3 separate regions of the Homo sapiens genome follow, and regions 2 and 3 are each linked to region 1. The links come from fine-mapping of genetic effects on gene expression. A gene starts in region 1. Each other region holds a variant in brackets. All regions are shown on one strand. Distances are between the middles of the regions.

Evidence for each region. PIP is the estimated chance that this variant, and not a neighbour inherited with it, causes the effect.
Region 2: its variant is the best candidate, but not a certain one, in a credible set for the expression of CLIC4 in whole blood (INTERVAL, PIP 0.64).
Region 3: its variant is the best candidate, but not a certain one, in a credible set for the expression of CLIC4 in whole blood (INTERVAL, PIP 0.65).

The regions. Positions count from the first base shown.
Region 1 is chr1:24,740,197-24,751,003 of GRCh38, forward strand. CLIC4 (chloride intracellular channel 4) reads left to right here and starts at 5,251. Exons shown (of 6, transcript NM_013943.3): 1 at 5,251-5,429. The coding sequence starts at 5,358. RefSeq lists enhancers at 2,742-3,347, 4,560-5,165, 5,166-5,771 and silencers at 4,853-5,562, 5,663-5,822, 9,284-9,363.
Region 2 is chr1:24,709,863-24,720,669 of GRCh38, forward strand. No RefSeq gene overlaps it. Among named protein-coding and RNA genes, the nearest start is that of CLIC4, 30 kb to the right of the region's middle. RefSeq lists enhancers at 4,837-6,036, 10,256-10,550. The variant C/T (reference allele first, on the strand shown) is at 6,129.
Region 3 is chr1:24,686,535-24,697,341 of GRCh38, forward strand. No RefSeq gene overlaps it. Among named protein-coding and RNA genes, the nearest start is that of SRRM1, 49 kb to the left of the region's middle. RefSeq lists a silencer at 8,971-9,090. The variant C/G (reference allele first, on the strand shown) is at 4,241.

The DNA.
Region 1 (10,807 bases):
GTCTTCATTCTGAAGGCTCCTGTGTATGTATGTGAAATCAATTTGTATGACTTTTCTCCTATTAAAAAAATAAATAAAAAATAAGTTGCATGCCATTCTGGGGAGCATGAGGAAATCTTTTTTTTTTTTGAGACAGAGTTTCGCTGTTGTCACCCAGGCTGGAGTACACTGGCACGATCTCGGCTCACTGCAACCTCTGCCTCCTGGGTTCAAGCGATTCTCCTGCCTCAGCCTCCCGAGCAGCTGGAATTACAGGTGCCTGCCACCAAGCCCAGCTACTTTTTGTATTTTTAGTAGAAATGGGGTTTCACCATGTTGGCCAGTCTGGTCTCGAGCTCCTGGCCTCAAGTGATCCACCTGCCTCGGCCTCCCTAAGTGCTGGGATTACAGGCTTGAGCCACCGTGCCTGGCCCTCAGTTTCCTTATTTGTAAAATGGGGACAATGAAAATTATGCCTTGCAATGCTGGGGATGGTGGCTCATGCCTGTAATCCCAGCACTTTGGGAGGCCGAGGCGGGTGGATCACTTAATTAAGGTCAGGAGTTTGAGACCAGTCTGGCCAACATGGCAAAACCCCGTCTCTACTAAAAGTACAAAAATTAGCCAGGTGTGGTGGCACATGCCTGTAATCCCAGCTACTTGAGAGGCTGGGACATGAGAATCACTTGAACCTGGGAGGTGGAGGTTGCAGTGAGATGAGATTGTGCCACTACACTTCAACCTGGGCGACAGAGTGAGACTCCGTCTCAAAAAAAATAAAAATAAATATAAATAAATAAATAAATAAATCAAGCCTTGCAAGACCATGATGAATAAATATGATTGGATATGAAAGCACCCAGCTAGGTGTCTGGCATGCAGTGTGAGAGCTCAGTGACCGGTCAAGAATATGGACAGATGGGAATAATACCAACAGCTAGTGTCTACAGAGCACTTACAATCCAAGCTCTTAACATAGACTAATTTATCAATGATCCTATTAAATATTAATAGGTACTAATTTTAGATCCATGTTTACAGACGAGAAAATGGTACTAATTTAGATCCATTTTTACTGATGAGAAAATGAAGCACAGAGAGGTTAAGTAAGTATCCTGAGTTAGTAAATAACAGAAGCAGGATTGGAACCCAGGCAGTCTGGCCCCAGAGTCCATGTGCATAGCAGCTCATTCTGCTGCTGAAATTGCAGAACTTTGGGCTGAGACAGTCAGCGAGCAGCACCACAGAGTTAGAAGTGGGAGGAGGAAAGTGTCATCAAGGGAGGCTTACTGGAGGAAAACCTGACCCCCTGTGTAGGGGCAGTCATAAACACAAACCACCTGGCTTCCCAGACTGGAAGAGCGTGACAATCCAAATGTCATGTCAGGGGTACATGAAACCATAGGATAAACATGGTACAGTCACTCACTCCATAAGCTATTTTTTTTTTTTTTTGAGACAGAGTTTCGCTCTTGTTGTCCAGGCTGGAGTGCAATGGCGCAATCTCGGCTTACTGCAACCTCTGCCTCCCAGGTTCAAGCGATTCTCCTGCCTCAGCCTCCCAAGTAGCTGGGATTGCAGGCATGCACCACCATGCCTGGCTAATTTTTTGTATTTTTAGTGGAGACGGGGTTTCTCCATGTTGGTCAGGCTGGTCTCGAACTCCCGACCTCAGGTGATCCATCCGCCTTGGCCTCCCAAAATCCTGGGATTATAGGCGTGAGCCACTGCGCCCGGCCCACTCCATAAATTTTTATTGTGTACCATGAGCTGTCCTCTGAGCCAGGAATATAGCCATAAACAAAACCAAACAAAAAATCCCTGCCCTTATGGCATTTATGTTCTAGTGGGAGAAGACAGACAATAAGCAGATAAATAGGTAGATATGTATCAGAGGGTTGTAAGTGTTATGAAGAGAGATAAAGTGGAGGGTGGAGTGAAAGATAGCAACTTGCAACGTTGCATAGGGTGGTATTTGGGGAGAGCGCTCTGAGAAGATGACATTTGAGCAAAGAGCCAAAGGAAGTAAGGGAGTGGGAGTTGCAGAAATTCTGGGGGAAGAATGTTCCAGAGAGGGGGAAGAGCAAATGCAAAGGCCCTGAGGCCACAGTGTGCTTCGCATATCCAAGGACTAGAAAGGAGGCCAGTGAAGCTGGGGTGGAGAGCACAGGGGAGAATGGTAGGAGATGAGGTCAGAGGGGTGTGTGTGGGAGGAGACAACATGTCTCCACCCATCTTAAAGATTTCTGTGTGCTATAAAAACAAGCCTGAGTAAAGAATGTAAAGCAGGCATGCAATTCAAAATTCGAAGAGGAGACTTGACTGCTATGTGGTTAGGGGGCCTCCCCTGCATAAACATCCTCTTTCCCTTTCACCCACTCCCAGGACTGACTGCCCATCCATGGGAGCCATATGAGGGCGGAACTTGGGAAACTGTAGGTGTGACTGAGACTACGTCTAAGCACAGGCTCTGGGTCTGAGCCTCTTCCTGGGGGGCTTCCTGTTGGGTAGGAGGAGCCCAGGAGATCATCACCACCTCAGGGCTCTGTGGAGAATGCCCCTGGCTTCCTCCTAGCTAAGATCTCTGTTTAGTCAATGAAGCCTAAAGGGCCCTGGTCTGTTCCTCCTTCCATACCCTGGTGCTGTGAGGCCAGTTGGAGCCTGTGAAGGGCAAGTCACCACCGGGAATATTTGCTGCCTCTAACTCAAATTCTTTTTTTTTGAGATGGATTTCGCTCTGTCGCCCAGGCTGGAGTACAGTGGCGTGATCTCGGCTCACAGCCACCTTTGCCTCCCCGGTTCAAGCGATTCTCCTGCCTCAGCCTCCCGAGTAGCTAGGATTACAGGCATGTGCCACCACACCCGGCTAATTTTTGTATTTTTAGTAAAGATGGGGTTTCGCCATGCTGGCCAGGCTGGTCTCGAACTCCTGACCTCAGGTGATCCACTCGCCTCGGTCTCCCAACGTGTTGGGATTACAGGCATGAGCCACTGTGCCCGGCCTCAATTTGATCAATTCTCAGGTACATTGAGTTTCTGCTGAATTGTTTTTTGGCTTAGATCTGCTTTGAACTGATTCACCATTTGGTTCCTTTTTGGTAGGGCAGAGAGGGTGGATTCTGGAAGGAAACTTTGCTTCAGTTCATGATTCTATGAAAAATTAACACGGTTCAGTCCAGAGTCTAGTCAGTCACTTCAGGATTTTCATGGTTCAAGCCCCCATCTAAGGGGAGCCTCCTGGAATTTATTTATTTATTTTCAACGAACTAGCCGGGCATAGAGAGAGTAGAATATGATGCCACATTCTAGCCTGCAGGGGTGGTAGGGACAGAATAAGTCTCAATGCAGTTAACAGCCATACTGACGGAGCAGCACATATGGTAAGGCAAGAATCAGTAATTAGCCCCACCCACTTCTAGATAATGAAACTGAGGCTTAGGGGTTTTAAGGACACTGCCTTGTCAGATTTGAACTTAAACAGTCAGACTACAGAGCACGTGTTCCTGACCACTGGGATACACTGGCTCTTTCACAGAGCCTCTGTGAGAAAATTTGAGCAACTTACTTTGGGCTGGCAGAGGAAGAAATTGCAAGTTTCACTGTATTTTCATGCCTACGTACAATTTGTTCAAACATTCTGGTATGTGCTAGGCACCGAGGATATGGAGACAAACCTCCCATGTCTGGGCCTCCTGGAACTCACTATTTATCCCAACCTGGGAAGTTGGGAGGAGTAGCTGTGAGTCAAGTATTATGGAAAGTCAGAAAAGGGCACAAGTAATTGTTTCCAGAGGAGGTGAAACTTGCCCCAGGCACTCAACAGCAGCAAACTAGGACCAGGTGCCTACAATCTCAAGGCAAGCACAGCTCTTGCCCTCGGGGGCTTAAATCCCAGGGCAGTTTAACTGGTTTGCGGACCACCTACTTCAGAATTGTCCTGGTGCTTGCTAAGATGTGGATTTCTCTTTTTCCCAGAGGATCTGGGAAACACAAAAAGCGGGGCTGCGTGTAGCACCTAGGTGATTCTGATGCACACTCAAATTTGACAGGTGAGCCGGGGGGAAGAAATGGGTGTGGGCAGTGGGGAACAAGATGGACAACGACTTGGAAGTCCTTAGTGGCCTGCAGGCACTGAGATTGCAGTTCAAGATCTTGAGCTTTGGGAGTTGTTACTCTCCAAGGGCTAGCTCAGAGCCTGAAACACAGTAAGGTTTCATAAATATTTGTGAATATGCGCCCGGCGCGGTGGCTCACGCCTGTAATCCCAGCACTTTGGGAGGCCGAGGCGGGCGGATCACGAGGTCAGGAGATCGAGACCATCCTGACTAACACGGTGAAACCCCGTCTCTACTAAAAATACAAAAATTAGCCGGGCGCGGTGGCGGGTGCCTGTAGTCCCAGCTACTTGGGAGGCTGAGGCAGGAGAATGGCGTGAACCCGGGGCAGAGTTTGCAGTGAGCCGAGATCGCGCCACTGCACTCCAGCCTAGGCGATAGAGCCAGACTCCGTCTCAAAAAAAAAAAAAAAAAAAATATATATATATATATATATATTTGTGAATATGCTGGCTGCCAAGATCGAAACGATCAGGAGCGTCAAAGGGAAAAACGAAGTCAGAGGCAGAAGAAAAAGGTGTTCCCCAGGCGATGAAAACTTTCCAGTAAGTTGTCTTGGAAAAGGCAACTCCGCGTAATAGAGGGACTTGGGGAGGTAGCCGCTGCGGGAAAGGGCGATGAGTCCTGGGGTGCTGCAGCGGGGGAGTGGGTAGGAGGCGCCTCCTAGCTTCCCCAGGGCGGCCGAGGCATGAGGTCACCTGGCACAGCAACAGCAGCAGCTGCGGAGGACGCGCAGGCGCTGCGGCGGGAGGCAGTGTCAGGCTCGGGCCCCTGGGGAATTCCTCCCCTCCTTTCCCCCCCGCACCAGTCCCCTAGAGAGGCGTACCCGGGTCCCGCCCGCCAGAGCCTGAGCTTTGTACCGCCCACCAAGGCCACGCCCCCTACCAGCTGTGGGGCGCCGCAGAGGTCCTTTCTTCGGCTCCGGAGCGGTCCCTCCGCCTTCCCCGCTCGAGGCCACGCCCCCGTGCTCCTGCCGCCTTATTTTCCCCGGAGAGTCCCGAGGCGCCGCGCCTTGGCCCTGCCTACAGCCCGAGGCCCCGCCCCCGGCGCCCCTCCCAGCCGTTTGAAGCGGCTCGGGCTGCGGCTGGCTCAGAGTGGCGCGGGGGGCGTGGGGCGGTGCTGAGGAGCTGAAGCCGTGGCCAGCTCGACGCCGGACAGTCCAGCGAGCAGCACGGCGGGAACCGGCAGCCGGAGCAGTCCCGGAGCAGAAGCAGCAGCAGCAGCAGCAGCCCTCGCCGTTCGCGGAGCGCAGCCGAGCCGGCCATGGCGTTGTCGATGCCGCTGAATGGGCTGAAGGAGGAGGACAAAGAGCCCCTCATCGAGCTCTTCGTCAAGGTGAGCGCTCGCCTCGCGGTCCCGCCCGGCAGATCCCCCGGCTCCCTCCCGGCTGCGGGGAGCGGCGTCCCGGGGCTCTCCTGAGGCGCCCCCGCTCGGCGCCAGCACCCGTCCCGCTGCGGGCACCCGCGCCCCCGGCCCATTGTCTGGGGGCCGCCCGCGCCTTCCCGCCTCCGAGGGCCCGTCGAGGGGTCCGGGTTGGGGACCCGGGCGGCGGCCACCGTCTCCAGCGCGTAGGCATCGGCGGACGCCAGACCAGCGTCCCGCGCCCGGGTGGGTCGGGAAGAGCCCACGGGCGGGACTTGCCTGCCCCGGGGCCCCAGCGCCGGGCGCGCGCGGGTCCTGTCACCACCCCCCGCCCGGGCGCCGGGGCCCGGCCCCACCCGCTCCCCAGCGCTCCGGTCCGCCGCCCGGAGCCCGAACTGCGGCCCGCCGCCCGATGAGCTTTCAAACGAACTTCTTTGAACGCGTTTTTGAAAAAGCATTTGCTCCCCACTGGTCTGAAACGGAAACTTTAATTTTCGATGCAATCTTAAACAAATTTACCAAAGAGCAGGTGCTCTTGGACCTTCGGAAAAGACCGAGATTCCCAACTTGTGTTTTTCTGTCTTGGGCATTTACTGGCTTTCTCGTTTCTCAAGCGCGGAGTGTTCTGTATGATGCAACATTTTGGCTTCTCCCCCCGGCGTTGCTGCTTCGGGAAGGATTGTGTGTGCCCTTTTGTTTTGAAAGAAATTGAGGGAGAGAATTCTTAACTTGCTTGGGCTTTAAAGGGTTGGTTTTCCCTTGTGTCTTCAGCTTTCATGTGTGGAATTTATTTGCTTACACATACTACCCCTCTTCCTTTGCTTTTCTCTTTAATACTTTTTATTTTAGCAAAGGAGAGAGTCGAAGTTATAAACATCTGGATCCAGCTCCTTCCCTCAAAACTTAAAAAAAACACTTTGAGCTTCTTCCAGCCACTTAAAAAGCCAGGCTCATTCAGAGCTAGGCAACATACCGGAAAGTAAATGGTCATCTAGAACTATTGGGTTCTTTTTTTTCCCCGAGTTTTTACTTTAAAGAAAGGACATTTCAGGATGTGTTTAAGAGATAGAGAAGGGCTGGGCGCGGTGGCTCATGCCTGTAATCGCAGCACTTTCGGAGGCCGAGGTGGGAGGATTACTTGAGTCCAGCCTGAACAAGATGGCGAAACCCTGTCTCTACAAAAAAATTCAAAAATTAGCTGGGAGCGATGTTACGCGCCTGTACTACTCTGGAGGCTGCGGTGGGAGAACTGCTTGAGCCCGGGAGGTCGAGGCTGCAGTGAGCCACGTCGCACCACTGCATTCCAGCCTGGGCGACAGAGCAAGACCCTGTCTCAAACAAAAGAGATGGAGAGAAGAAATAATCTGCATTTACCTCTGCAGTCTTCAGTAATGACTGGAACAGTGTTTGCCTTAGGATTTTCTTTCAATTGTCAATTTTCGATTTTTTTTTTTTTTTTTTTTTTGGTCCAGGGAACTGAAACAGCAGACAGGTATAGAACCCCCAAAATATCAAAGCGTTTCGGTTACTTTGAGTGGCAGATATAGTACTTTGAGATGCGTAGAATGTAGGAAGGAACCTGAAATACAAGAAAGGAAGGAGGCCGGGCGCGGTGGCTCACGCCTGTAATCCCAGCACTTTGGGAGGCTGAGGTGGGCAGATCACGAGGTCAGGAGATCGAGACCATCCTGGCCAACATGGTGAAACCCCATCTCTACTAAAAATACAAAAATTAGCTGGGCGTGGTGGCGCGTGCCTGTAGTCCCAGCTACTCGGGAGGCTGAGGCAGGAGAATTGCTTGAACCCGGGAGGCAGAGGTTGTGGTGTGCGGAGATTGCGCCACTGTACTCCAGCCTGGGCAACAGAGTAAGACTCCATCTCAAAAAAAAAAAAAAAAAAGAAAGAAAGGAAGGGTGGTGGGTGGAAAACAGCATGGAGAAGGGAAACAAGTGGGCCAGAGATGAGTTAAAAAAAATTTTTACTGAGTGAGGAATAGGAAGGAATTTCCATAAACTCAAAAAAAGTGCATCCATGAATAATCTGTAAAACATGATACTTAACGGTGAAACTTTAGAACAGTATTAAACTTAGAATAAGCTACTATCGGGCCGGGTGAGGTGACTCACACCTGTAGCATTTTGGGATGCCGAGATGGGGAGATCACTTGAGGCCAGGAGTTCGAGACCAGCCTGGCCAACATGGTGAAACCCTGTCTCTACTAAAAATAGAAAAATTAGCCAGGCATGGTGGTGGGCCCAGCTATTCGGGAGGCTGAGGCATGAGAATCGCTTGAACCGGGGAGGCAAAGGTTGGAGTGAGCCAAGATCAAGTCACTGCACTCCAGCCTGGGCGACAGAGTGAGACTTCGTCTCAAAAAAAAAAAAAAAAAGATAAAGCTATTATCAGTTATGGCTCTATTCAGTATTCTATTATTCTATTGGAGGAGCTAATCAAAGAAGACAAGAAAAATTAAGTATCTGAATTAGGAAGAGATCAGTGATTAATGCCCTGCTTACTATTAATTTCATCTTTCAGTTAGAATAGCAGAGGGGCGTGTGCAGTTTTCCAAACTTGAGTCACTTGCATCCCCTTTCTGTTTTTCATATTTGTGTTGAGAACCACTGAAAATCATCCTTCCTACCACTAGTTGTAAGCCTTTCTCATTGGGCTTGGTGGCAGAGAATCAGGGTTCAAGTCACAGTTCTTTACTCCTTGGTTGGGTGACCCTAGGCAGTTTGTTTTCACTCTTTAAGCCTTGTTTGTCTCATTTGTGAAATAAGAAATGTTTTCTGCTACCCAGTGATTCAACATAGGCAAACTTTGCACTGATACAGATCAGGTTTTTTGTTTTTTTTTTTTTTTTTTTTTTTAATGAGATGGTGTCTCGCTCTGTCACCCTGGCTGCTGGAGTGCAGTGGCGCGATCTCGGCTCACTGCACCCTCTGCCTCCCAGGTTGAAGTGATTCTTCTGCCTTTGCCTTCCGAGGAGCGCATGCACCACTACGCCTGGCTGATTTTTGTATTTTAGAAGAGACTGGGTTTTACCATGTTGGCCAGGCTGGTCTCAAACTCCTGACCTTAAGTGATCTGCCTGCCTTGGCCTCCCAAAGTGCTGGGATTACAGGCTTGAGCCTCTGTGCTTGGCCCCTAGACCAGTTTGTTTGAAAGGGGAAAAAAGGACAGGTAAAATGTGGTAAAGGGCATTCTTGATCTCTTCTCAAAACCTACGTGTGGGAAATGCAAATGGGGGAAATACCCTTGTAAATATAGTTATTTTGAAAGCAGTGGACCAGGTGTGGTGGCACACTCCTGTAATCCCAGCCTTTTGGGAGGCGGAGGGGGGTGGATCACTTGATGTTGAGACCAGCCTGGGCAACATGGCGAAACCGCATTTCTACTAAAAATACAAAAATTAGCCACGCATAGTGGTGCATGGCTGTAATCCCAGCTACTCGGGAGACTGAGGCAGGAGAATTGCTTGAACCTGGGAGGCGGTGGTTGCAGTGAGCCGAGATAGTGCCACTGCACCCCAGCCTGGGTGACAGAGCAAGACTCCATCTCAAAAAATAAAAATTAAAAAAAAAAAAAAGAAAGTAGAGAGGGTGCAGAGGCTGTGGTTGTCCAGAGTGGTATGTTGAACAGTGTTAACCTGCCAAGAGGTATCTGAGTTTGTAAAAGAAAACTATTTACAGTTGAAGCACATAGCATGTATGGAAATTAGAAATTTGGTGGTGGCGCTAGGGGAAAGGCCAAGAGATGTAATGGGGCTTTGAGCCTACCTGTCTAGCTAGCACTGAGCTTCACATTTAAGAGAGAGAGATGAGCACCTTCTCAAATAGTATGACTGAACTCACAGCTGCATTTCCTTCCTTGTGAGTAGTTTTTGGAGTTGTCTGCCTGTGAGCCCATTAACTCCCTGTCATCTATATAACAGCAGGATGGTTTTTTTGGTTTGTTTTTGTTTTGTTTTACCCTCAACATCTGGAGGATAGATAGGATGCCCTCTCAAAAGTAAAAAAGGCAGCTGGGCTGTGGTGGCTCACGCCTGTAATCCTAGCACTGTAGGAGGCCAAGGAGGATGAATCTTTTGAGCGCAGGAGTTCTAGACCAGCCTGGGCAACATGGCGAGACCCTGTCTCTACAAAAACTATTAAAAAAATTGCCAGGCACAGTGGCTCACGCCTGTAATCCCAGTACTTTGGGAGGCTGAGGCAGGCGGATCTCTTGAGCCTAGGAGTTCGAGACCAGCCTGGGCAACGTAGCAAAACCCCATCTCTACAAAAAATATAAAAAATTAGCTGGGTGTGGTGATACATGCCTGTGGTCCCAGCTGAGGTGGGAGGATTCCTTTAGCCTGGGAGGCAGAGGTTGGCTGTGAGCCGTGATCGTGCCACTGCACTCCAGCTTGGGTGAGACCCTATCTCTAAATAAATAAGTAAGTAACTAAGCTGGGCCTGGTGGCCCACGCCTGCAGCCCTAGCCCTAGAGGCTGCGGGTGGGAGGATTGTTTGAGCCCAGGAGTTCGAGGCTGCAGTGAGCTTATGATCATGTACCTGCACTCCAATCTGGGTGACAGAACAAGACCCTGTCTCGGGAGGAAAACAACAAAGGCTTATAATGGCAATCATCCTCAACAGTGGAGATGCTCTCTACCCCACTCAGGAGCCTGGTAGGTGTATATATTTCCAGCTGGGAACCACCAACAGATACGGTATATTTGAGACCTTTTAGCAAGGGCATAAGGTCCCTTGTAATCTGGGTTTCTTTCTTTCTTTCTTTCTTTCTTTTTTTTTTTTTTTTTAAGACGGAGTTTCGCTCTTGTTACCCCTCAGCCTCCCGAGTGGCTGGGACTACAGGTGTGCACCACCACACCTGGCTAATTTTGTATTTTTAGTAGAGACAAGGTTTCTCCATGTTGGTCAGGCTTGTCTCGAACTCCTGACCTCAGGTGATCAGCCTGCCTTGGCCTCCAAAAGTGCTGGGATTACAGGCGTGAGCCACCGAGCCTGGCCTACTGCCTGAGTTTCTAATCCAATATGTCCAGTTACTAATTGTGTATCCCAGGATACATCACTTAAACCTGTCTGTGCCACATCTGCACAGTTGGGATATTAGTAGAACAGTCCTATGGGATAAATTAATATATGTAGTATGCAACAATCTTAGAACAATGTCTAGTACACAGTAAGCAAATAAATGCTAGTTGTGTATAATTTTGTATGAATATATATTTATAGGCAGATCTCCCCTACTAGATAGACAGTAAATTCCTTGAGGATAGGGTGTGCATATGGTTCAGAGTGCCTGCAACTTAAGAGGATGCCAAATGTTTGAAATGAGATTGTGCCCTT
Region 2 (10,807 bases), 30 kb before region 1:
ATGACAGAGATCAACATCTGGATGAGCTTGATGTTAGATAAAGTCTCTGCTGTGACCTTGAGGAGTTGGACCAGGGACTGTCCAAGTCAGAGAGAGAAAGGTGTCAACTATGACTTGAATATTTCCAGCTTAGGCAGCTTGTCCTCTATGACAGCATGAGTTGAAATTGGAGGAGACAAAGAGGAAGAACAGATTTGGAGGAAAATGACAAGACCAATTAGAACACACTGTTGCATTTGATTTTTGGGGATTTTTTGTTGTTGTTTTTCTTTTCTTTTCTTTTTTGAGACAAGATCTCACTCTGTCACCCAGGTTGGAGTACAGTGGCACGATCATGACTCACTGCAGCCTCAACCTCCTGGGCTCAAGCCATGCTCCCACCTCAGCTTCCTGAGTAGCTGGGACCACAGGCGAGCGCCACCACACCCAGCCAATTTTTGTATTTTTTGTAGAAATGGGATCTTGCTGTGTTGCTTAGGCTGGTCTCAAACTCCTGGGCTCAAGCAATCCTCCCACCTTGGCCTCCCAAAGTGCTGGGATTATAGGCATGAGCCACTGTACCCGGTTACATTTGTAAAATGTTTTCTGTAAATGCCAAAGTCTGCTGATGGATAATAAAAAAGAAGAATTCTTGCTAGAAGTTTCGGCCCATGTTCTCTTTTTTTTTTTAAGATGGAGTTTCGCTCTTTTGCCTAGGCTGGAGTGCAGTGGTGCAATCTTGGCACATTGCAACCTCCACCTTCTGGTTTCAAGCTATTCTCCTGCCTCAGCCTCCTGAGTAGCTGGGATTACAGGCGCCTGCCACCACGCCCGGCTAATTTTTGTATTTTTTTTTTTTTGAGACGAATTTTTACTCTTGTTGCCTAGGCTGGAGTGCAATGGCGTGATCTCGGCTCACCACAACTTCCACCTCCCCAGTTTAAGTGATTCTCCTGCCTCAGCATCCCAAGTAGCTGGAATTACAGGCATTTGCCACCATGCTTGGCTAATTTTTGTATTTTTAGTAGAGATGGGGTTTCTCCATGTTGGTCAGGCTGGTCTCGAATTCCCGACCTCAGGTGATCCGCCCACCTCAGCCTCCCAAAGTGCTGGGATTACAGGTGTGAGCCACCACGCCCAGTCCCCCCATCTTTTTTTTTTTTTTTTTTTGAGACAGACTCTCACTCTGTCACCTAGGCTGGAGTGCAGTGGCATGATCTTGGCTCACTGCAACCTCCACCTCACGGGTTCAAGCGATTCTTCTGCCTCAGCCTCCTGAGTAGCTGGGACTACAGGCATGTGCCACCACACCTGGCTAATTTTTGTGTTTTTAGTAGAGATGGGGTTTCACTATATTGGCCAGGCTGGTCTCAAACTCCTGACCTCGTGATCCACCCACCTCTGCCTCCCAAAGTGTTGGGATTACAGGCGTGAGCCTCTGCGCCCGGCCTCGGCCCATGTTCTTACAGTAAAAGCTTTGAGGAGTCTGAAACCCAAATTCCATGTATTCATATCCTTGTTCATGCATTCATGTATTCATTCAATTTGCTCACTTAGCCAGCCATTCAGCAGGTAGAGTTATGCTTAAGAGAGGACCCTAGAACCAGACTACCTAGGTTCAAAATCCAGCTCTATCTCTTACTAGGTGCATGGCCTTGGGCAAGTGACGTCATCTCTTTTTCTTTATCTCCAAAGCGGGGATGATAATAACAGTACCAATATTATTGTAAAGATTAAAAGAATGAATACCTGGAAAATTCAGACCACTGGCTGTGGTGGCTCATACCTATAGTCCCAGCTACTTGGGAGGCTGAAGCAGGAAAATCGCTTAAGCCCAGGAGTTCAAGGCTGCAGTGAGCTATGATTGTGTCACGGCACTCTGGCCTGGGTGACAGAGAGAGACCCTGTCTCTATAAAACAAAATCAGGCCGGGCATAGTGGCTCACACCTGTAATCCCAGCACTTTGGGAGGCCAAGGCAGGCAGATCACCTGTTCAAGAGCAGCCTGGCCAACATGATGAAATCTCCTTTCTACTAAAAATACAAAAAGTAGCCGGGTATGGTGGCACATGCCTGTAATTCCAGCTACTCCGGAGGTTGAGGCAGGAGAATCGCTTGAACCCAGGAGGCAGAGGTTCCATGAGCCAAGATCATGCCACTGCACTCCAGCCTGGGAGACAGAGCGAGACTCCATCTCAAAAAGCAAAACAAAACAAAACAAAAATTCAGATCAATGCTTGGAACATAAAAACCTATAGATATTACTTATTAATACTCAATACTTTTTTTTTTTTTTTTTGAGATGGAGTCTTGTTGCTCTGTCATCCCGGCTGGAGTTGCAGTGGCACGATTTTGGCTCACTGCAACCTCCCCTCCGCCTCCCAGGTTCAAGCAATTCTCCTGCCTCAGCCTCCCAAGTAGCTGGGACTACAGGCAAGCGCCACCACACCCGGCTAATTTTTGTAATTTTTTTTTTTTTGAGACGGAGTCTCGCTCTGTCGCCCAGGCTGGAGTGCAGTGGCGTGATCTTGGCTCACTGCAACCTCCACCTCCTGGGTTCAAGCAATTCTCTTCCTCAGCCTCCCGAGTAGCTGGGACTACAGGCGCCCACCACCATGCCCAGCTAATTTTTGTATTTTTATTAGAGATGGGGTTTCACCATGTTGGTCCGGCTGCTCTCGAACTTCTGATCTCATGATCCACCCACCTAGGCCTCCCGAAGTGCTGGGATTACAGGCGTGAGCCACCGCACCTGGCTAATTTTTGTAATTTTTTTTTAGTAGAGACAGGTTTCACCATGTTGGCCAGGCTGGTCTCGAACTCCTGACCTCAAGTGATCTGCCTGCCTCAGCCTCCCAAAGTGCTGGGAATACAGGTGTGAGCCACTGTGCCTGGCCTCAATAAATAATGTTTTGAGCACCTACTATGCAGCTGGCTCCATGCTGCACTGAGGATACAGTAGTGCAGAAGACAGAGAGAAGACCTGCTCCATGACACTGACATTCTAGTCCTTATTCAGCACCAAGATCCTAAGTTTCCTTGGTTTTCTTTCGGATGTCTTGTCCCATTTGATTTTTAGAAAGACCCCATGAGGTTAGAGCAACCTTACCCCATTTGACAGAGGTGGAAACTGAGGCCCAGACAGGAGAACCGATGTCCTTTTTGCACAGTGCCTCAGCCGGCTGCCATGAATATGTGTGTCCGTTTGACAAAGGCATGGGGATAGGAGTGGTCAGGAGGCTCCATGTCTCCCATCAGCCAGCTGTTCTTCCTCTGCCTGGAGCCCTTCCAGTGACCCAGCTCTCAAATGTGGCCAACCTCTTGCCCCTGAGCGGGATCTCTGTAGCCCTCTCATGGCAGAGGTCCTGGAGGTGCGAAGTAGGGGTACCGTGCCCAGGCTGCCCCTCTCCCCACTTGGTCTCCTACGTGCAGTGGACATTTTTCCACTTGGTGTGACCACACAAAAACTCCACCCAACATCATCTTCATGGATGCCTAAAATTCCACCATCCATGATTCATTCTTTTAGGTTGAACAACTGCTCCCAGGAATGTCTGAAATTCCCTGGAATCAGTTGCTAACACCTTAGTGAGCTAAAAACTGGCCTTACAGATAATCATCTACCTTCTGTAGACAACTCTGGACCAGAAGAAGAAGTGACTTGCCCAAGGACACGTAACCTTGGGCAGTCAGTCAGTGGCAAGCCAGGGCCAGAGGCTGGCCTTGCTCACACATTTTCCTGGGACAGGAGGAACAGAGCCATATACGATGTTCCCTTGAATCACATCTACTTTGCAGCCTGCAGAGAGCCTCCCCACCCAGAGCCCACTTGATTCAGGCAATCCCTATGAGCTGGGCATGAGTCCCTCTCCCAGGCACAGTGGCTCACATAGACATGGGGATGCCACAGGGACCTAGCCCAAACGTCCATTGCTGGATCCCTGGAGTGAGGTTTCTGGTCTATCCAAGGCCTAGTTTAGCTCCTCCTTCCGTTCTACCGGCAGCCCCAGATTCTTCCACTGCCTTCCTTTTTTTTTTTTTTCAGTAAGCTCAAGTTGGTTTCTCTTGCTTCTAAAGAACTCTAATTGAAATTCCCACTTTACAGATAAGGAGACCAAGATGTGAAGAGGAAAGGTGAATGCTAAGGTGGAGCCAGGCCTGCAACCCAGGTCTCCTATCTCCTGGCCCAGGCTTTTGCCTCCTGCCACGTTGCCTACTGTGAGCAGTTGGGTCCCGAGGAAAGAGAAGAGCAGAGAGGAGTGTGAGTGCATAAGCCTGAAGATAGAGGGTACAGTGGTTCATTGAGAGATTTTGGAGTCAGCAGATCTGATCTTACACTTACCTGTTATGAAGATTTTGACAAGTAATTTCATCTTCTCAGAGCCTAACTTCCCAGCTATAACATAAGAAAAAGAGGACCTTCTTATAGTAGACACAGACCCAACAGGAGCAGAGTGGGTGAGTAGAGCACTGGGTGGATTTTAGCCTTCACATACTCATCTATGGCTGGGTACCTTTGTGCAGTGAACAATCTGGGCAACAGTACATGACAGCCCTGAGAATAATGATAATACCTGCCTTACATGGATGTTATAAAAACTAAATGAGATAAGGTATGTGAAGTTCTGGGCACAGTGCTTAACCACTTAATAAGTCTTCAATAAACAGTAGCTAAGTATTTTGACACCATCACCCCAGGCTCCGTCTGGAAGGCTCTGGAAGGCAGTCTGTGGTGAAATGGCAAGTCCCAAACTCCCCACTTTCTTACCACCAACTCCCAAACCTCATAATTTTCCTGGATGGCCTCAGTGTCCTGCCTCTCCCTCCAGAGTTCTGTGGGGTTGGCTGGACCACCAGGAACAGAGTTCTGGCATTTTCTATCACATCACAGCTTTCAGTTTGGTAAAAGCCCCCGATATATCAGGGCCCAACTGGCAAGTCCCTCCTGCTCCAAAGTTTTGAAGGTTCCAGGGTCAAGCCTTGGCCCCCAGCCTCCTCCCTCAGACCTGAGGCCGAGCATAGTATATTCAGGGGCCTAGCTGCAGCAGGTCCTGAAACCTGCTACAGCAGTCCAAGCCCCCTCAGTCCTCCTCTTTCATTTCTGAGCAGGCCCAAGCACCCAGCACCAAGAATGGCTGGACTTAGGGACTCTGGGAGAGCCACGTGTGCCAGGCTAGTGCCTGCCAGCTCTTAGGCTGATCTTACAATGGCTCCATTCACCAGGGAGAGGAGCTGGCCTGCCTGGAGCCCACGGGGTGATGTTCCAGGCCCCAGGGGGATGGGGTGGGAGGTTAGAAACTAAGAAAGCGGTTGTTAAGGCTGGGAGGGGTGAAGGTGCCCAGCCTCCACCACTACCAGCACCTTATGACAAGGTGACCACCTCACAACTGGGACCATGAGAGATCAGATTCTCTGGGGCCCAGTGGGGGTGAGTAAGTGCGGGGGCAGATGGAGGGAAAGAGTTAGTCATGGGCATTGCGGGGCAGGGAGGCTGGGCCCTTAGCCCACGCTCTTGCTGGCATCTGAAGGCCCGTAGCCAGGGGGTGACGTGGTCTTGGTCCTTGAAGCAGCCCTTCCAGTAACAACTGGGGCATCCCAGCCAGGCAGCCTTTGCCTCTCCCCCTCCTCTCCATGCCTGCTACCCCAGGTCTCCAGGATCTCTCAAAGAGATTTTCATCTACAAACATCTCTGTCTCCATCATCTCTCCCTTCTTCACTCACAAAGCCCAAGTTGAGTCCAAACTGCTCTGTCCTCAAATTAAAGCCCTCACTGACTCCTCACTACCTAAAAGACCATGACCTCAGTGTTCAGGCTGTCATCTTGCCCACTCAGCATCCATTCCTTTTCCATATGAGCTCCAAGTCTCTCTATTTCTGGGGAAGCACCTGGGCCCCCACTCTCAGTCCATATGTTTCGAGTGGAGCTCAGGCCTAGAATTAGACATGTGACCCCAACTTGATCAATCCGATTGTTCCACCTCCACTCCCACCACCTCTATACAGCAATTGGTTTAGACATAGTCACGTGACCTAAACCAGTCCAATGAAATTCAAGTTCAGAACCTGTGTATAAATGTTTGGAGAAATGGGCCGGGCGCTGTGGCTCACGCATATAATCCCAGCACTTTGGAAGGCCAAGGCGGATGGAT[C/T]ACCTGAGGTCAGGACTTTGAGACCAGCCTGGCCAACATGGTGAAACCTTGTCTCTACTTAAAATACAAAAAATTACCTGGGCGTGGTGGTACGCACCTGTAATCCCAGATACTCCGGAGGCTGAGGCAGGAGAATTGCTTGAACCCGGGAGGCAGAGGTTGCAGTGAACCGAGATCACGCCATTGCACTCCAGACTGAGGGACAAGAGCAAGACTTCATTTCAAAATAAATAAATAAATAAATATCTGGAGAAATGAATCTTTCTTTGCCCTGGGCTTGGAGCCTCCATTTGGAAAGGGCCTGCTTCAGAGTGAAGCCAATGCAAGGAGAAGCAGAGAGGAGCAGAGAAGAAGAGAGAGAGGCCAAGTCTTGAAAGCATTTATTTGAGCTATACCTGAAGCAAATACACTAATATACTCTATTGTTTTTTCTTTTTAACTTTCATTCTCAAAGGAGGTGAATGTTCAGTTTTTTGAGTCAACGGATTTTCTTTTTTCCTAAGCTTCTTGGAATTGCGTTTTCTGTCTCTCGCAACCCAGGAGTTCTGACCAACAGAAAGGCCCTCCTACTCTGACCTTGAACCACTTCTGCAGTCTCATCGGCCCTGCCTGGGGCATATGGAACTCTCCACTCCCCTGAATGCCCCATGTGCCTTGTGATTCTCTGCACTTGCTCCTGCTAGGCCCTCTGTCTGGGGTGGATTCACTTTTCCTGTTTTGAACTTGCTCAGCTTTTTTTTTTTTGAGACAGAGTCTTGCTCTGTCGCCCAGGTTGGAGTGCAGTGGCGCAATCTCAGCTCACTACAACCTCCGCTTCCCGGGTTCAAGTGATTTTCCTGCCTCAGCCTCCCAAGTAGCTGGGACTACAGGCATGCACCACCATGCCCGGCTAATTTTTGTATTTTTGGTAGAGATGGGGTTTCACCATGCTGGTGAGGGTGGTCTCAAACTTGAATCACTCAGGTGATCCACTCGCCTCGGCCTCCCAAAGCGCTAGGATTACAGGCGTGAGCCACCGTGCCAGGCCTTGCTCAGTTCTTAAAGGTCCAGTTCAAATGCCAGTTCCTCCATGGAGCCTTCCTCAACTGCTTCCCAGGGAGAATTTACTATTTGCACCTGTCTTCAGCACTATAGAGCCATTATTTCACTGTATCATAGTGATTCACTTGCCCATCCATCTCCCCCACTGGATTGTTGAGCTTCATGAACTGTGTGTGCTTTCTTTCTCCTTTCTCAATACCTAGTACCTGACCTGGCACAGAGTAGGCGCTCGGAATCCTGTGTCCAGTGACTTGAATATCCATCAGACTGGATGTTAGAGCTGTGGGGATGTGGCACTCACCCTGGAACTACTACTAGTTGCTATGCAGCCCATTCCCATCTCTGTGAACAACCTGAATTGTCCACCTTCCTTCAATCTAAAAATTCTACTCATCCATCAAGGAGCTCAATGCCCTGAGTATGTGAGGAGAGGGCTGCTTTGGAGTTGGACAGACTTGAGTTCAAGTCCTGGCTCTTCCATGTGGTACTCATGTGACGTAGGCCAAGTCATATAACTTTCTTGAGCTTCAGTTTCCATAAAATGGCAAACACATGGTGCTCATTATGTGCTGTGCCCATATCCTAATACTTCTAGTTCTTTTATCCTCCCTATGAGGTGTAGGTACCAGTCTCGTCCTCTTCCCAGTGATAAAGAGACTGAGGTCCAGAGAGGTTAAGTAAGCAAGGCCATGACTAGGACAGAGCCTTGGACAGACCTAGTGGCCGGGTAGGGGATGGAACCCAGGCAGCCTCTGCTCCAAGTCAATGCTCTTACCCCTCTACTGTCCTGCCTCTTGAAAAATGAGGATAGTACTAGAACCTTCTTCTTGGGGTACTTGTGAAATTTCACCTTCACATAATGTGTGTGGAGGGTACAGTAGAGCTGAAGCCCTTGCTGTTGGCACCGCGGTGTTCTCAGCCTAGTGGAGTCTAATCTTTCCAAAGAATCCTGGACTTTAGGGTCAAGCTGGAGGGAGGGGGGAGGTGGCTAGTCTAGCACAGCATCCACTTGGCTGTGGCTGCTTGGCAGAAGGACCCTGCTCATAATGCCCATTTGTCCAGACCGTAGTTCAATGACTTCTGCATTCTCTGCACGTACACCCTAGAAGGGATGGGATGGATGGGGGATGGCACTGGCTCTAGCCTGGCCAGGGAAAGCCAGCTGGGAATTAAGAGGTCTTGGGCAGCAGGACAACCCTGTGTCGAGAAACCTCAACTCTGCCACTGCCTAGAAGTGAGACCCTGGGTAAATCACACAACCTCCCTGGGGCTCAGTTCCTTCATCTGTGAAATGCGGACCTTAATGGTACCTCCTTCATCGGGTGGTGTGAGGAAGAAGATGTATTTTGCAAGTATGTTGTGGATATTCAGTAAAAGACAGTTAATGATCAGCCTCATGCTACTGTTTGGTTAGCCAGGCTGGCTGGGGTTCAATCTTGGCTCTACCATTTCCTAGTCATGTGATCTCAACTAAGTTACTTAACTTCTTGGCTCAGTTCCTCCCTGGTAAATTGGGAACAATCAAAAAACAATAATACAATAGCAGCTATGTGCCCCTCACAAAAAAGCGATCCCCAATTTTTAGTGATCCCAAGCAGCTCCCTGCCCCTCCCCAAGGCGTCAGTTTCCCTATTTGTTCAGGGAATTTTTTTTTTTCTTCTTGAGACGGAGTTTCACTCTGTTGCCCAGGCTGGAGTGCAGTGGCATGATCTCAGCTCACTGTAACCTCCGCTTCCCAGGTTCAAGCGATTCTCATGCCTCAGCCTCCCAAGTAGCTGAGATTACAGGTGTGCGCCACCACACCTGGCTACTTTTTGTATTTTTAGCAGAGATGGGGTTTCAGCATGTTGGCCAGGCTGGTCTTGAACTCCTCACCTCAAGTGATCTGCCTACCTCGACTTCCTAAAGTGCTGGGATTACAGGCGTGAGCCACCGTGCCTGGCCGGAACTTTTTTTAAAATAGAGACAGGGTTGGGCTCTGTCACCAGGATGGAATGCAGTGGTGCAATCATAGCTCCTGGGCTCAAGGAATCTTTCCGCCTCAATCTCCTGAGTGGCTAGGACTACAGGCATGTACCACCACACCCAGCTGATTTTAATTTTTCTTGGTAGAGATAGGGGTCTCACCATGTTGCCCAGGCTGGTCTTGAACTCTTGGCCTCAAGGATATTCCTGCCTCAAGGATACTTCCACCTCAGCCTTCCAAAGCATGAGGATGACAGGCATGAGCCACTGCACCCAGCCTTGTTCATGGAAATTTCAGCTTCACCGTAAGCGCCATGCCCTAACAGATTCCCAGGCTCCGCTTCATGTACTGAATTGGTCCCCCTGCGGGAGATGCCCGATGCCCTTTCTTGGGGCAGCTGCTGTGTCCACCTTGTTCACTGTGTCCCCAGCACCTGACCTGGGCCTGCACATGGTGGGCCCTTAGCAAATGTTTATTGAATTTATGTTTTTCATGTAACAAACATGAACTTAGTGCTTCTCATGTGCTAGGCACTCCTTTGCGTGCTTTACAGATATAAATGCATTTATTCTTTGGCAATCTTTTTTTTTTGAGACGGAGTTTCGCTCTTGTTGCCCAGGCTGGAGTGCAATGGCACAATCTCGGCTCACTGCAACCTCCTCCTCCTGGCTTCAAGCAATTCTTCTGCCTTAGCCTCCCGAGTAGCTGGGATTACAGGCATGTGCCTCCACGCCTGGCTAATTTTGTATTTTTAGTAGAGACGGGGTTTTTCCATGTTGGTCAGGCTGGTCTCAAACTCCCGACCTCAGGTGATCCGCCCGCCTTGACCTCCCAAAGTGCTGAGATTACAGGCGTGAGCCACCACCCCCGGCCTTACTCTTCAGCAATCTTGTAGAGAATGACTATTATTATCCCCATCGTTATTTTACAGATGAGGCAGTTGAGGCAGAGTTAAAGTAACATGCCTAGGATTCTAACCCAAGACCTCTGGCTTCAGGGTTCATCCTCTGGCCTTCTCTGACCCTGTCCCCTCTATTCAGGAGTTGGGGTACCCTGAGTACCCACACATCCACTGGTATCCATGGCTCATCTCTTGGGATGGGGTTCTCCCATCCTCTGGGCGAGAGCAGGGGCCGGCTGTGGGATGTGGGGAACCGAGTCATGGGCCTGGCCTCCAGGAGACAGTCAGCCAACACCTGCCAGTCCGCCAAGTCCCAAAACAGCCTGGGCGCAGCTCACATCCGGCTGTTGTTCCGGAGCCAGAGAGGAGAACAGGAAAGGCCAAGAGGCCTGGCTCCAAGCTGACTCATTGGGAGGTGGGACCAGGACAGGAAGGGCAAGGGGTCGCCAACTCCATCCTCCCTCCCTTGGACACTCACTGGAATAAGGCCGGGCCCTGGAGCCACAGGCCAGAATCCACCCACCATGGAGCTTCAGGGACCTCACAGACTCCCAGGGAGGAAACACATGTGAGTTTAAAAACCAAGCCAGGCCGGGCGCGGCGGCTCACGCCTGTAATCCCAGCACTTTGGGAGGCCCAAGGCAGGTGGATCATGAGGTCAGGAGATTGAGACCAGCCTGGCCAACCTGGTGAAACCCCACCTCTACTAAAAATACAAAAATTATCTGGGCGTGGTGGCGCGTGCCTGTAATCCCAGCTACTCGGGAGGCT
Region 3 (10,807 bases), 54 kb before region 1:
ACAGCCATGTGCCAACCACGCCCGGCTAATTTTGTATTTTTAGTAAGACAGGGTTTCTCCATGTTGGTCAGGCTGGTCTCGAACTCCCAGCGTCAGGTGATCCACCCGCCTTGACCTCCCAAAGTGCTGGTATTACAGGTGTGAGCCACTGTGCCCGGCTATAGCATACATTTTAAAAGTGTTTTCTATGGCCAGGAAAATTGGAAAATAAATAAAAGTCACCCCTATGCCAACATCAAAACACAGCCACAGTCCTCCCCGTTGTAAATTTCTTACCCAGTCATTTAAAAATAATTTTAGATGCCTTTTTTTTTTCTTTCAGACAAAGTCTCGCTCTGTTGCCCAGGCTGGCGTGTGCAGTGGCATGATCTTGGCTCACTGCAACCTCCACCTCCCAGGTTCAACTGATTCTCCAGCCTCAGCCTCTCCAGTAGCTGGGATTACACGCATGTGCCACCATGCCCGGCTAATTTTTTTTGTATTTTTTTAGTAGAGACGGGGTTTTACCATGTTGACCAGGCTGGTCTCAAACTCCTGACCTCAGGTGATCCACCCGCCTCGGCCTCCCAAGGTGCCAGGATTACAGGCATGAGCCACTGTGCCCAGCCTAATTTTTGTGTTTTTAGTAGAGACAGGGTTTTGCCATGTTGGCCAGGTTGGTCTGGTATTCCTGGCCTCAAGTGATCTGCTCTCCTTGGCCTCCCAAAGTGCTGGAATTACAGGCGTGAGCCACCGCGCCTGGCCTTATAGGATATTTTCTAATTTTAAAAAGACATGCTCATTTTTAGAGAATTTGGAAAACATAAAAATCTAGAGAAAAAATTATTGGCAATCCCACCATCCTAATATAATCAAAGACACCTGTCCTAGGTCAAATGTCCTACCTGGCTACACCGAACCCACCCTGAGCTCCTCTCCTCTAATATATAAAATGAGTCAGGTTTTTTCTCTATAAGTACATTCATAGCTACAAATATCAGGATCATACCAGATACACATAATATTTAATATTCTTTTTTTCACTGGGCATAATATGAACTAGAATTATAGCATACTTTTTTTTTTTTTTTTTGAGACGGAGTCTTGCTCTGTCGCCCAGGCTGGAGTGCAGTGGTGCAATCTCGGCTCACTGCAACCTCCACCTCCCGGGTTCAAGTGATTCTCTAGCCTCAGCCTCCCGAGTAGCTGGGATTACAGGAGCGTGCCATGCCCAACTAATTTTTTTTGTATTTTTTAGTAGAGACAGGGTTTCACCATGTTGACCAGGTTGGTCTCGAACTCCTGACCTCAGGTGATCTACCCGCCTCGGCCTCCCAAAGTGCTAGGATTACAGGCGTGAGCCAGCATGCCCAGCCTAATTTTTGTATTTTTAGTAGAGACAGGGTTTTGCCATGTTGGCCAGGTTGGTCTGGAACTCCTGGCCTCAAGTGATCTGCCCGCCTCGGTCTCCCAAAGTGCTGGAATTACAGGCATGAGCCATCACACCCAGCCAGATGCTTCTATTTATTTAAACTTTAACCTCTGTAGGTCAAATGGTAGTGATGGTACCCACCTTCACAGGGTTTTTGTGAGCATTAAATTAGACAAATGAAACACAGGCCCTGTCCCAGCGGAGATCATGGCATGTGGGCAGGGGTCGAGGGTGGGAGCCAGGGGACACTCAGGCAGTGATAAAACAAGGTGACTGGTGACACAGAGAGGGGAGCTGTGCAGTGTAGCAGTGGTCAGCAGTCCTGCAGCCAGCTTCTCAGCCACAGACATACTTACTGTGAGACCTGGGCACATGACTTCACCTCCCTCAGCCTCCTCTGTTTCCTCTTCTGTTAAATGGGCATGGATTCAATAACATCATACAGGTAGAGGGCTTAGCTCATGCCTGGCATGTCACAAGGGCTCCATCAATGACAGTTTTCAGTGTTCCATCAAATCTTACATACGTGCAATTGTAGGATGCACCACCACCTATTAAACCACCACCGCATTCATTGTAAGACGTATCTGACTTTAGAGAGGTCAAAATACAGGGGAAAAAAGTCTTAAATTTCACTATATCCAGTGTCATTATTCAGAAGGGTCTGGGACACTGAGGTAGGGCTCCTGAGTTAGCTCAGGGACACACTCATCCGTCACTCTCAATTTCTTCGTCTCTGTCCCTCTCTCTGGCCTTCTCTTCGTTTTCTGAGCCTTCCACTAGGTGGCACCCGGGCCTGGGTGCCTGCTGTGGAGCTGATGCCCTGAGGTCAGTCCTGCCCCTCCGGCTTCTCCATGCTTTCTTCCCCTTTCCTTTTTCCTCCTCCCCACCTTTTATCCTGCAAGTGGGAGGCTTTGATTCAGTGCTCAGAGGTTCCCTGTAGGATTGCAGAACTTGAAGAACAGCTACAGGGCTCCTGCCGTCCACTGGCTCCAGCCCATCCCAAGCGGGAATTCCTTCCCAGCAAGTCCCCAGCTCTCACTTGCATACCTTCAGTGGCAGGAAACTCACTACTTCATGAGGATCCCGTTCCATCGTGGTCATGCACTTGGGCTCTGAAGACGCTCCCCCGAGGGTCCTAGGGAACCCACTTTCTAGTCCTTCAACAGCAGGCGACTTGGGCCTTTGTCTACTTTGTGTACTGGGGAGTCCCCAAGGCCTGGCACAGGCGAGGCATTGAGTGAATGAATGACAGTCAATGAACACACTCAGTTGTTCTGTGCATCTGTTTCATTACCTGTGAAACAGGGTTAATAATAGTATTTACCTCATAAGGCTGTGAGGATTAAATGAGACAGGACCTCTAAACAGGTTTAGTGCCATGCCTGGTACATAATAAATCCTCAGCAAATATTGTTTTCCTCTTATTTTTTCTCTTCTTTAATAGCTACAGATAGCTCTACTCTTTTTTTCTTTTTTTTTTTGACGTGGAGTTTCGCTCTTGTTGCCCAAGCTAGAGTGCAGTGGTGTGATATTGGCTCACCGCAACCTCCACCTCCCAGGTTCAAGTTATTCTCCTGCCTTAGCCTCCTGAATAGCTGGGATTACAGGCATGTGCCACCATGCCCAGCTAATTTTTGTATTTTTAGTACAGATGGGGTTTCTCCATGTTGCTCAGGCTGGTCTCCAACTCCCGACCTCAGATGATCCGCTGGCCTTGGCCTCCCAAAGTGCTGGGATTACAGGTGTGAGCCACCACACCTGGCTGCCATAGCTCTGCTCTTATTATCTGAAAGATCTGTTTTAGAGCAAAGTGATTCTGATTTTTTTTTTTTTTTTTTTAGACAGGGTCTCATACTGTTGCCCAGGCTTGGAGTACATGGCATGATCACAACTCACTGCAGCCTCGACCTCCTGGGCTCAGGCAATCCTCCCACCTTAGCCTCCCAAGTAGCTGGGACTACAGACGCATGCCACCATGCCTGGCTAATTAAAAAAATTTTTTTGTAGAGACTGGGTTTTTCATGTGGCCCAGGCTGGTCTTGAACTCCTGGGCTCAAGCGATCCACCTGCCTTGGCCTCCCAAAGTGCTGGGATTACAGGCATGAGCCACGGTGCCCGGCCTGATTCTAATTCTTAAAATTTTCACACAGGCTGGGTGCGGTGGCTCCCACCTGTAATTCCAGCACTGAGCCCTTACTGCATCTCATTAATTCTTCCACCTGTGTTCCTGGGCATTCTTCTCCCATTTTATAGATGAAGGAACCAAGGCACACAAAGGTCACATAGGCTGGGCGCGGTGGCTCACGCCTGTAATCCTAGCACTTTAGAAGGCCAAGGCAGGCATATTGCTTGAGCCCAGGAGTTTGAGGCCAGCCTTGGTAACATGGAGAAACCCCATCTCTACAAAAAAATTAGCCAGGCGTGATGGCACGCACCTGTAGTCCCAGCTACTCTGGGAGCTGAGGCAGGAAGATCTCCTGAGCCTGGGAGGCAGAATCTGTCTCAAAAAAAAAGAAAGTCACATAGCTGGTGAGCAATAGAACCAGGATTTAGATCTTGTCTGTCTGACTCCAGAACCCACCCCTTCACCTCTAAGCCTTATTAGTAGAGACAGGGTTTCACCATGTTGACCAGACTGGTCTCGAACTCCTAACCTCATGATCCACCCGCCTCAGCCTCCCAAAGTGCTGGGATTACAGGTGTGAGCCACCACGTGCCTGGCCTTTTTTTTTTTTTTTTTTTGAGATGAAGTCTCACTCTGTCATCCAGGCTGGAGTGCAGTGACACAATCTTGGCTCACTGTGAGCCGGGTGTGGTGGCACGCAC[C/G]TGTAGTCTCAGCTACTCAGGAGGCTGAGGCAGAAGAATCGCTTAAGCCCGGGAGGCGGAGGTTGCAGTGGGCCAAGATCGAGCCACTGCACTCCAGCCTGGGTGACAGAGCTAGACTTCCAGTCAAAAAAAAAAAAGATCCTCATAGGAGCACGAACCCTACTGTGAAGTGTGCATTTGAGAGATCTAGGTTTTGTGCTCCTTATGAGAATCTAATGACTGATGATCTGAGGTGGGAAGATTTCATCCTGAAACCATGCTCCTGCTGCCTGTGGAAAAATTGTCTTCCACAAAACTGGTCCCTGGTGTCAAAAAGGTTGGGGACTGCTGCTCTAGAGGATGTTCTGGGGCCTGTGGGGAATTTTCTGTTCTGAGCCTTCCACGTACTACCCCGATGTCATGGCTATTACATGGCTTCCCAGCATATGTTCCCTGTCTCTCCCACCATCAGAGCCATATTGGGCTCTACTGGAATTCTATGCTAGTGGGTGGGGTTGGTAGCACTCTTCCAGGGTGGGCTCTGATGACCCTGGAGGAGAAGCCATATGCATCCAATCTCTCTAGTCACAGAAATGAACACTACCTCAGTCAGAGCCAAGGATTTGCCAAGAGAAGTCAGTGGAGCTTTTTGAGGGAGAGAAGCTGCTTTTCATTTCTACAGGAGTACTGGAAGAGGTACTCTCTTTCCCTGGACAGTGTGTTAAGGGGATGTGAGAGCTAGAGATGCAGTAGCTCTTATTCCCAAAAATTTCTGTTGAGAATGAAGTCAACATACAGAGGAAGGCAGAGCCCAGAGACTTCAAGAAGAAAAAGAACCTAGGCCAGGCACAGTGGTTCACACCTGCAATCCCAGCACTTTGGGAGGACAAGGCGGGAGGATCGTTTCAGCTTGTGTTCAAGACAAGCCTGGGCAACATTGTGAGACCTCTTCTCTACTAAAAAAAAAAAATCTTTTTTTATTAGCCAGTTACTTGGTCCCAGTTACTTGGGAGTCTGAGATGGGTGGATCACTTTAGCCCAGGAGAATCGCTTGAATAGAGGCTGCAATGAGCCGTGATTGCACCACTGCACTCCAGCCTGGGCAACAGAAGGAGACCCTGTCTCCAAAATAAGAAAAAAAGAAAACAATGAAAGAAGAAATAGAACCTAGTCTGTGGTGTTATTAGTTACTTATTGCTGTGTAACAAATCACCCCCAATTTAGCAGTTTAAAACATTTATTGGGCCAGGCGCAGTGGTTCATGCCTGTAATCCCAGCACTTTGGGAGGCCGAGGCAGGTGGATCACGAGGTTAAGAGTTCAAGACCAGCCTGGCCAACATGGTGAAACCCCGTCTCTACTAAGAATACAAAAATTAGCCGAGCGTGGTGGCAGGCGCCTGTAATTCCAGCTACTCGGGAGGCTGAGGCAGGAGAATTGCTAGAACCCGGGAGGCAGAGGTTACAAGGAGCCAAGATCGGGCTACTGCACTCCAGCCTGGGTGACAGAGCAAGACTCTGTCTTGAAAACAAAAAAAAACAACAATAACAAAAAACATTTATTATCTCCCAGAGTCGCCAGAGTTGAGGATTGGAAATTGGAAGAGATCCCAATTAGTGGTTCTGGCTCAGGGTCTCTAATGTGTTTATAGTTAAGATGTTGGCTAGGGGTGCAGTCATCCACTTCCAAGATGGGGCTGGAGGATCCACTTTGAAGATGGTGCACTCATGTGGCAATTGGCAGGAGGTCTCAGTGCCTCACCAAGCGGGCTCTCCATAGCAGCTAGCTTTCCCCAGAGCGATGATGACGATGACGATGACGATGATGATGATGATGATTGTGTGTGTGATAGAGAGAAGGAAGCCACAGTGCCTTCTACAACCTGCACACTATCATCTTTGCTTTTTTTCTATTCATTAGAAGCAAGTCACTATGTCCAGCCCACAGCCAAGGGAAGCATAACTAGGATTCCTTTTAAAGGAAGTGCCAAAGAACGCATGGACTGATTTTAAACCACACCGTAGTGACGCCACTCGAGCTGCTGGAGGAAGCCCTCACCTGAGGACTCACCTCGAATCCAGTTAATTCCCCTTATGGTGAAGCCAGTTTGACCTAGGTTTTCTAAGTCATACCATTCAAAGAATGATTTTTATCTTCCTCATCTTATCCTCCAGATCTGCCTTGTCTGACTATGCTCCTTTTATGGGCAGTGGTGGGAGCTGGGCCCAGACTCTAGGGGAGGAAGGGTGGACCCTTCTCACCTTCTCAGTCTTTGGTCCTATTTTTTTTCTTTTTTTTTGAAAAGGGGTCTCACTTTGTCACCCAGGCTGGAGTGCAGTGGAGCTATCATGGCTCACTTGCAGCCTCAACCTCCCAGGCTCAGATGATTCTCTCACTTCAGCGTCTCAAGTAGTTGGGACTACAGTCTCACACCACCATATCTGGCTAATTTTTTTGTATTTTTAATATAGATGGGTTTTCGCCATGTTGCCCAGGCTGGTCTCGAATTCTTGGGCTCAAGCAATCCTCCTGCCTCAGTCTCCCCAAGTGCTGGCATTATAGGCGTAAGCCACCACATTTGGCCTTGGTCCTTTTTTTTTGTTTTTTTTTTTTGTTTGTTTTTGTTTTTGAGATGGAATCTCACTCTGTTGCCCAGGCTGGAGTGCAGTGGTGCGATCTCGGCTCACTGCAAGCTCCCCCTCCTGGGTTCACGCCATTCTCCTGCCTCAGCCTCCGAGTAGCTGGGACTACAGGTGCCCACCGCCACTCCTGGCTAATTTTTTGTATTTTTAGTAGAGACGGGGTTTAACCGTGTAAGCCAGGATGGTCTCAATCTCCTGACCTCGTGATCTGCCCACTCGGCCTCCCAAAGTGCTGTGATTACAGGTGTGAGCCACCAAGCCCGGCCTAATTTTTGTATTTTTAGTAGAGACGGGGTTCCACCATGTTGGCCAGGCTGGTCTCGAACTCCTGAACTCAGGTGGTCTGCCCACCTTGGCCTTCCAAAGTGCTGGATTACAGGTGTGAGCCACCATGCTCAGCCTTGGTCCTTTATACTACAAGCCTGGGCAACATAGTGGGTACACACTACTGTCCCATGGCCACCAGTGATGCTGGGTACAGGAAAACCACATTGTTCTATGGACTCCTGACCATGGTACTCATCCTTCCACTGGCCACTCCTGCTAAGACATGGCTTTTCCATCCTGTAATTGCCCTTAAACATTGGGCAACAATTTCCAGGTCTCTCTGGGTCAGTCCCTTCGGGGGAAGGAAGACAGAGGAATCATGTGGCCAGGTGGGAAGAGCTCTGGGCCAGCTTCCACTCAGCCTTGCTGTGTGACCTTGAGGAAGTCCCTGCTCCTCTCTGGGCCACAGTTTCCTCCTTTTTGAATGCAGAAGGTTGTATTAACATATCTGAGGATGCTTTGGGGTTTTCTTAGTTCACTTCTGTCCAGAGAAGATGATGAAATTTTAGGAGCAGCCTCACTTCCAACACACCGGGTCTTGCGTGGTCATTCATACCCCGGCAGAGAAAAAGCTGCATACTTCATGCCCTTTGCCCTTCACCATCTCATCTGATCCTCCCAGCAGCCAGCAAGGACACGGGGCAAGGCACTGGAGGCAACAGAGGCTCAGCAGCAAGACAGGGTACGTGCAGAGAGCTGCGGGACAGACGTGGCCTCACCAGCAGGACCCGTGATTAAACAGCAGCTGTGGTTCACTAAGTGCTTTCTGCTTATTATGTGCCAAGTACTTCACATGTGGCTGCTTTGTGTCATTCTCACATCAAACCTGATGGGTGGTTACTATAATTATCTCCTTTTACAGATAAGGAAACTGAAGCCCAGAGGGGTGGAGTAACTAGTCCAGCAAAAGTAAGCCATGTAACTGGGATTCAAATTCAGCTTGAACATCTCAGCACTCATCTGTTTTCGATCACATAACACTCCCTCTAGGCATTCACAGGAGCTCAAGGATAGGAGTAGGGAGGGGAAAGCTAGGAGTCCGAAGACTTGAGGGGCCAGGCATGGTGGCATGCACCTGTAATCCCAGCATTTTAGGAGGCTGAGGTGGGAGGATGGCTTGAGCCCAAGAGATCAAGGTTGCAGTGAGCCGTGATCGTGCCACTGCACTCCAGCCTGGGAAACAGAGAAAGACTATGTCTTGGAAATGGTAGAGGACCTTTAAAAAATAAAGAATAAAAAAGTACAAAACCAAAGACTTGCGCAGATGCGGTGGCTCACGCCTGTAATCCCAGCACATCAAGAGGTCGAGGCGAATGGATCACCTGAGGTCAGGAGTTTGAGACCAGCCTGGCCAACCTTGCGAAACCTCGTCTCTACTAAGAATACCAAAATTTGTCAGTTGCGGTGGCAGGCGCAGTGGCGGGCGCCTGTAATCCCAGCTACTTGGGAGGCTGAGGCAGGAGAATCGCTTGAACTCGGGAGGCAGAGGTTGCAGTGAGCCAAGATCACACCATTGCCATTGAACTCCAGCCTAAGCAACAAGAGCGAGATTCCGTCTCAAAACAAAGCAAAACAAAACAAAAACAAAGACTTAGGTTCACGAACAAACTCTGAACACTTACTAATTCTAAGGCCAGGGTAAATCTTTCATCTTGCTCAGCCTCAGTTTCCTTATCTGTAAAATGGGGATCATAATTTGTCATCCAAATTGTGAGGATTGGGTAAAAACATTTTTAATAAGGGCATGTATGTGAGCATCCCCCATGTATGGCAAAGAAGTTGTCTAAATTTAAGAGGTTGTTGTTTTTCTTAATCTCAGAGCAGGAGCCAGGGCAGGAAGTAGGCAGGCTGATTAGGGCGGCCAAGTGTCCCTGCCCAAGAGTGACTACTTCCGTCCCTGGTGTTCTTCATTAAGTCCCCAGGAAAGGAGGAGGGTGGGCCGGAAGAAAGGGCAAAGCTCTAGGTCCTTATCTAGAACTCTGCCTCCATGCAAGAGCCCTCCAAGGGAAGAGAAGTTCTGGATTATCACCACTGAGCTCCAAGCATGCCAGAGGGCTCAGCAGGGAGAAAGTCTGTCAGCACCTGACCCAGCAACAGCTGGGGAGAGGCCTGGATGGGTAGGTTGCATGCCTCCCCCTCAGCCTGTGTCATGGCCCTGCCCTGGCCTCATGGTCCAGGACTCAGTCCCCATAGCCTGTCCTACCAAGGGGAACACCAGACTCCAGCACTGCGATGCACAAATGCCAAACCCTCCCAAGGGGCAGCTTTGGCAAGTGACTGGAACTGGAGTCAGGAGGCGCCGGCTCTTGTTCTGGTTTTGTCCCTTCTCCTCGCTGGGTATCAGCATCCCTACTGTGGAATAAGGGACATTCCCTCGAGGGCATTTACATAGTGTGGATCTGGCGTACCACTTGCTACCCCTGCCACAAAGTGTTGTTCCTTGTGCCTTCTTCCTGGGCTGCTGGAGAAAAGGCTCATGCCACATGTGCTGCCCTCTCTGGGTGTGGTCAACAGCTCCCCAGCCCAGGACACTCAAGTGTGACACCCAGATGACACTCAAGTCATCTGTGTCATTTTCTGTTTCTGGTGCTTCCTGAATTCCAGTTCTTTCTTGTTCCCAAGTAGATGGAGAGCTCCCTGAGGACAAGCAACTGGGGTCTCCTTACCCCTCCCCAAGAACTAGGGCTTAGCACAGAGTAGACCCTCAGGGCTGGTTAGCAGCTGTGCTGTTGGGCCATCCTTGAGGCCCTTGATGAACATGGCCTCCATCACCAGTGCCTGTTGCAGCGTTCTGGCCACACAGGGAGGAACCCCAGTTTCTGCTCCTGGTTCTGCTCAACTCAGTCTGCAGGACTTTAGGCAAGGCTCTGTCAAAAGCATCTGTGGTTTTTCAAAATGTGCCAGGTGGAGGCCAGGCGTGAAGTGGATAATCCTCAGGGGCAGATGGGGACTGGTACTCCAGCCCTCACCCCACCATCCAGAGCTGCTCCATTCTTAGCTTTTAGCTTTTACACACTGGGATTCCACAATAGTGACTTCGCAGCTTCACAGAGGTAAAATTGACATACAATAAACTGACATATTGACATAAAATAAACTGACACATTGAGCATGTAAAATATACTTTTTTTTTTTTTTTTTAAAGACAGAGTCACACTCTGTTGCCCAGGCTAGAGTTCAGTGGCGCAATCTCTGCTCACTGCAGCCTCTGCCTCCTGGGTTCAAGTGATTCTCCAGCCTCAGCCTCCGGAGCAGCTGGGATTACAGGCATCCGCCACCATACCTGGCTAATTTATTTGTTTTTTTGTTTGTTTTTGTTTTAGAGACGGAGTTTCGCTCTGTCGCCCGGCTGGAGTGCAGTGGCACAATCTCAGCTCACTGCAACCTCCGCCTCCTGGTATCCGGAATTGGTTCTTTCCGGTGGGTTCTTGCTCTGCTGACTTCCAAGAATGAAGCCGCGGACCCTTGCAGTGAGTGTTACAATTCTTAAAGATGGTGTGTCCAGAGTTTGCTCCTTCAGATGTTCAGATGTGTCTGGAGTTTCTTCCTGCCAGTGGGTTCGTGGTCTTGCTGACTTCAGAAGTGAAGCCGCAGACCTTTGCAGTGAGTGTTACAGCTCT